Regions from separate parts of the Homo sapiens genome. Here region 2 is linked to region 1. Evidence: fine-mapped expression QTL. A gene starts in region 1. The other region holds a variant in brackets. All regions are shown on one strand. Distances are from middle to middle.

Region 1 (2,917 bases):
GGAGTTTTTTCCCCCTGTACTGTCAACTGATTTTTAGTAAGCATATGACTTTCTGTATGTATCATCCAATTGATTTAAAAATGAATCAATGAATGTATTTATTGATCGCCTGCCTCGCTTCACAAAGGAATGTGAGGAAGGACACCCAATTTGGCATTGCTGTGTTTCTCTGTATTTGGGTCATGCATTTTTTCTTGCTTTCCACATTGAAAATGTGGTGGATGCAGTAGATTGGCTTTAAGTGTCAGGCCTTCCCTCATTTACTATACCTTTTTGTGTTTCACAAGCTGGAAAGCTACCAACTACATGCTCTAGACATCCTTGCTGCTAATATTCTGCATGTCAGATTGGTCTCACCAATGGCACGCAGCAAAGCAAGATTTGCAGGTGCTGTTTTCTTGCTGCTGGCAAATGCAGCCGTGGAGACCACCGTTTTTTGCAGCACTGTTCCAGTGTCCTGTTAATTGTTCTGTCGGTGTTGAGAGGAGGTTGGGGACCAGGCATGGCAACTTCCTGACGCCATCTTCCTGATTGTGGGCAGCAGCCACAATCAGCAATCTTATCTAGGTAGTCATCCATGGATGTTCAGCTCAGCCCTTCTCCAGCCTTTCCAATGATTTCGAATGTCCCCAATTCCCCCTAACGAATCCCTTTCTGACTAGGAGTAACTAGCTGAGTGCTGCAATGAAATCCTGACTGACAGATTTGTAAACTCTTTGCGGGCAGGAACCCTTGATATAAATAAATGACCTTGCATTTTAATGGAGGGAAGCAGAAGGATAAACAAATGAATAAGTGAAAAGTTTTAATAAGATGGTGATGCGTAAAAAATAAAGCTGGTTAATGGGGAGTGCAGGAAATGAGCGCAGCTGTCTTGCCGTTTTAATCAGATAGGTCAGAGAAGGCTTCTCTACTAGGGTGGCTTTTGACCTGCCTCTCTGTTAGGTCAATTGTGTGCGAGGCCCTGATGGAGTTACTGTGTTAAAATGCAATGATTCAATTACTCCATTACTTAGATACCCTTTAAGTGACACTACGGTTGTCCATCTCCCCGCTATTGAATTGTTTACCCACAGTAAGCATGGCGGGAAGAGCTTCGATCCGACCCTTGAACGCTCAATAAAAATGGCGACAGCACTTCCTGTACTTGCCCTCAACAAAGATGGTGTCAACACTTCCTGTTTAGGGTTTTCGCCATTAACAAAGATGGTGCTTATGGGGCAGGTTCCCTAACAGTCAGGATTCCGGTTGCAGTTTTTCTCCCCCGCCCCAAAGATACGTGGTTGCAGACGTAAGTAACAGGAATCCATCTTTCTTTGAAAGTCCTGCATTGTAGCGTCTGCGACCTGGGCCCTGCGGGGGCTTCCCCGCCCCGCTAACTTGCTCCGCATTTCCGATCCGGGCCAAGGCTGGGTGGCTGCGGCAGTGCCGGAGGCCCGCTCTCCCCTTGGTCCGCTCTTTAGTTCATTCCCAGCACTCCCTCTTTAGCGGGTCAAGTTGCCGCAGAAACCGCCCGTAGTCTTCCTGTTTGATACAAGGGTTTCAGCGGCCGAAGCAGAGCCTTTTTAAATAGTTCCCAATGGGCGCTCACGGCCAAACGTGAACACCTCCCCTCCTCACCTGTCACCTCCTGAACTTTACAGGGTTGCGAGGGGGAGTGTGGGATCGGGTGTCGCCTAGCCGTGGTCGTACTGCCCGGGTGTGTCTGAAGCCCCATCTGTCATCCCTGCCTGCCTTCCCGGTCACTTAACCTTCACTGCCTTACACACAACCAAGCCACAGCACACTGGTGCAGGGGTGGTGGAACTGCACCTTCAAATCGTGCCTGGCTACTGACCAGTGCTGGGGTGTGTGCTTTTTTTGAAAGAAAAAAATCCCATAAAATGTCCCATGCATGTGCGGCCACGACAGTGTTGTGCTGGAGATTCGGAATTCTTAGTGGGAAGGAATGGAGTCTGTGACTGTATATTGTGTAAAGTTTATTGTAGACTGGGCACAAACAACAATTTTCTTAAAGGTGATCGTGTAGAGGACTTTTAGCGAAAAGAGCCTTAAATTCTGAACCTGCTGATTTCTGTCCTGCACTCCTATTACTGATCAGGTTTTGCAAATACTTGTGATCAAAAAAAGGGGACCTGCGTCCACCTTGGCAGTTTCTGCCTTGGTGGTGGTGGTGCAGGTCTGATGAGGGCAATGTGAAAATAAAACCACCATTTCTTCTCCAGCGTGTTAAAATTAGTGCTGCTCTGTAATCTTCAGATAAAAATTGCTTGTTCAGAAGGGTCTCTGACCCACTTTTTTTTTTTCTTTTTCCAAATTTCTTTATTGAACGAGGAATTGAGCTGGGACCCCATTGTGTGAAAAGCAGAAACAGAAAAGATGATTCATCTTCATTGTTGTTCATTATGTTAGGAAACATTCAAAATTAACCTGGCTTGGCTTAATCAGTGAATTAAATACCATGACCTGGCAGTCTGCTATGGTTTAAAGATGTGCTTGACCTGAAGGAACTTACATTGCAGTGACACTGTCTTTAGGGCCACATCAACATGTCTGTAATTTGAGCTGTGATTTTGGCTCTTTCCAGGGAGAAATGGAGGCCAGAGACAAACAAGTACTCCGCTCACTTCGCCTGGAGCTGGGTGCAGAGGTATTGGTGGAGGGACTGGTTCTTCAGTACCTCTACCAGGAAGGAATCTTGACGGAAAACCATATTCAAGAAATCAATGCTCAAACCACAGGCCTCCGGAAAACAATGCTCCTGCTGGATATCCTACCTTCCAGGGGCCCTAAAGCATTTGATACATTCCTAGATTCCCTACAGGAGTTTCCCTGGGTCAGGGAGAAGCTGAAGAAGGCAAGGGAAGAGGCCATGACCGACCTGCCTGCAGGTAGGCCTCAGAAAGATCACTTTGAA
Region 2 (2,917 bases), 150 kb after region 1:
AGAGTCTAGGGAACAGGACCTAACCCAGTGAAGTGGGGCCAGGGACAAGAAGGGGACAAAATAAACCCAAAAAAACCCCCAGCTTTATTGAGGTATAATTGACATACAGTAAACTGCACAAGTTCTTAGTATGTAATTTGATGTTTCCACACACTTATACACCCATGAAACCATTGCCACAGTCAGAATGATGAACCTATCCAACACTCCTAAAAGTTTTCTCATGTCCCTCTATAATTCCTTCTTCCCATCACCCCCATCTCCAGGCAAACACGGATCTGCCTTCTGTCATTATGTGTTGGTTTCATTTCCTAGAATTTCACATAAATGGAGTTCTACAGCATTCTCTTTTGTCTGGCAACTTGCACTCCGCATAATTATTTTTAGATTTGTCCATGTTGAAGTGCATATTAATACTTTGTCCCTTTTTAATGTAGGACAGTATTTCATTTTGCAGATATGCCATAGTTTGTTTATGCATTCACTTGTCGACAGACATTTGTTTCGTCGGCTATTACAAATAAAGCTGCCGGGAACATTCATTTACAAGTCTTTGCATGGACATGGGCTTTCTTTTCTCTTTATTAAACACCTAGAAGTGAAATGGCTAGACTATATGGTAGATGTATGTTTAACGTGTTAAGTGACTACCAAATCATTTTCCAAAGTGTTTGTCCCATTTTATGATTCTATCAGCAGTGTATGAGAGTTCCGTTTCTTCCATATCTATGCCAACATTGTCTTCAGTCTTCTTTATTTTAACCAATTTTATTGTGGTAAGAACACTTAACATGAGATCTACACAATACAGTATTGTTAAGTATAGGTACAATGTTACAGATCCCTAGAAATTACTCATCTTGCATAAATGAAAGCATACCTGTTGAACAGCAACTCCTCATTTCCCCCTTCCCCCAGTAGTGGTTCCCTCCTGGCAACCACTATTCTCCGTTTCTATGAGTTTGACTATATTAGATACCTCAAATAAGTGGAATCATGTAGTATTTGTCTTTCTGTGACTGGCAAGCATTCTAATTTGAGTAGAGTGGTATTGCATTGTGATTTTAATTTACATTTCTCTAGTGAGTGATGTTGAGTGTCTTTTTAAGTATTTATTTGCCATCCATGTATCTTCTTAGCTGAAGTGTCTGTCCAAATCTTTGCCCATTTAAAAAATTGGGTTATTTTTGTTAAGCTTTGAGAATTATTTGTATATATATATGTATACAAGTCCTTTACAAGATATGA[T/C]TTGCAAATATTTTTTCCTAGTCAGTGGTTTGTCTTTTAATTTTCTAAACAGTGTCTTTCAAATAGCAGAAGTTTTAAATTTTGATGACATCCAGCTTATCAATTTATTCTTTTATGGATCATGCTTTTAGTATGGTGCCATTTTAAAGAAGTCTTTGCCTAAGCTAAGCAAATAATTCATCTATGTTTTCTTCCAGACGTTCCATAGTTTTAGGTTTTCCATTTGGGTCTATGATCCATGTTGAATTAATTTTTGTGTATGATATGGGGTATGCCTTAAATTCTTGTGTATGTCTGCATGTGTGTATGCACATGTGTGCTTGTGCGTATGGAGAGTCAGTTGTTTTAGCATCACTTGTTGAAGAAACTATCCTTTCTCCATTGAACTGCCTTTGCACCTTTGTCAAAAGGTTTCCACATGGGTGTAAATCTATTTCTGAACTTTCTCCTGTTTTATTGATCTATTTGTCTACCTTTTCACTAATACCCACTGTCAATTTCTATAGCTTTAGGATGTCTTAAAATCAGGGAGTGTAATTATTCCAGCTGCATTCTTTTTCAAAATTATTTTGGCTCTTCTAAGGTCTTCACATTTCTTTATAAATTTTAGAATCAGCTTGTCAATTTCTATTTTTAAAAATATGTTTGGATTTTGATTGGAAGTCATTTTGATCGGGAGTGATTGAGCTTTCCAGGGGGATGTGTTCATGGGAGGAAACACATTTTTATATGTGAACAACTGGCATTTTAAGACCCATACAGCATTTAAAAAATTTTCCACAGCCTTGCTCCGAAGTTTATTGAAAACCCATCTGTGAAAAATAGTGTTATTTGATGCCAAAGGATACAAGGAAAAATAAAATGTTCTAATTCTGGTCCTTATTTCCTATGATTTCACCTTTTTTTTTTTTTTCAATGTCATTCCAGAGAGAGGAAAGACAGTTATCTCAGGCAGTCTTTTACCCCTGGGAAAAGACCACAGACACATGGGAGGGTTTGTGCTGCCTTGAGTGAAAAGAGTCTGTTTTGTTATGCTCTCCTTCCCCCAGCTGGCTGGAGGCTCATCCACCAAGCTTTAGACTATTATGCTGTGTAGGATTTTCTACCATTATCTGGTACAGGAGGCAGAAATCAAACCCCTATAAGGCTTGCAAGTTCCTGGACCCGGGAGATCAGCTCAGTGACTGGGCTTTCTCATGCGTGGTAGGAGAGTGGATGCTGGGGGTAGCCAGGATGAGGATGGCTCTGGTGAGCTGACAAGCAAAGCTACAAATCTGGAATTTTGTGAAACCTCTCAATTTTTAAATGCTCTTTCTGTAGTTTTTTGAACTGGACAGGCCAAATGAAACACATCTACGGGCCAAATTCAGTCCATTGCTACCACTGTGCAGCCTCTGATGGATGGGCTCTTTTATTTGCTTTTAGGGTCAGCTCTTTCATCAGCTCCCTAAAGTTTTGGTTTTTTGTTGTTGTTGTTGTTGTTTGAGATGGAGCCTCGCTGTGTCACCCAGGCTGGAGTGCAATGGCATGATCTTGGCTCACTGCAATGTCTGCCTCCCAGGTTCAAGCAATTCTCATGCCTCAGGCTCCTGAGTAGCTGGGATTACAGGTGCCCGCCACCACACCTGGCTGATTTTTTGTATTTTAGTAGAGAGGGGTTTTCACCATG

What was found. PIP is the estimated chance that this variant, and not a neighbour inherited with it, causes the effect.
Region 2: its variant is fine-mapped to the expression of CRADD in whole blood (INTERVAL, PIP 0.90).

Annotation. Positions count from the first base shown.
Region 1 is chr12:93,676,182-93,679,098 of GRCh38, forward strand. CRADD (CARD and death domain containing adaptor protein) reads left to right here and starts at 1,194. Exons shown (of 3, transcript NM_003805.5): 1 at 1,194-1,291; 2 at 2,588-2,891. The coding sequence starts at 2,594. RefSeq lists enhancers at 435-1,250, 1,039-1,278, 1,251-2,065, 2,882-2,917.
Region 2 is chr12:93,826,979-93,829,895 of GRCh38, forward strand. The region is part of intron 2 of CRADD (CARD and death domain containing adaptor protein); the gene reads left to right. Among named protein-coding and RNA genes, the nearest start is that of CRADD-AS1, 91 kb to the left of the region's middle. The variant T/C (reference allele first, on the strand shown) is at 1,249.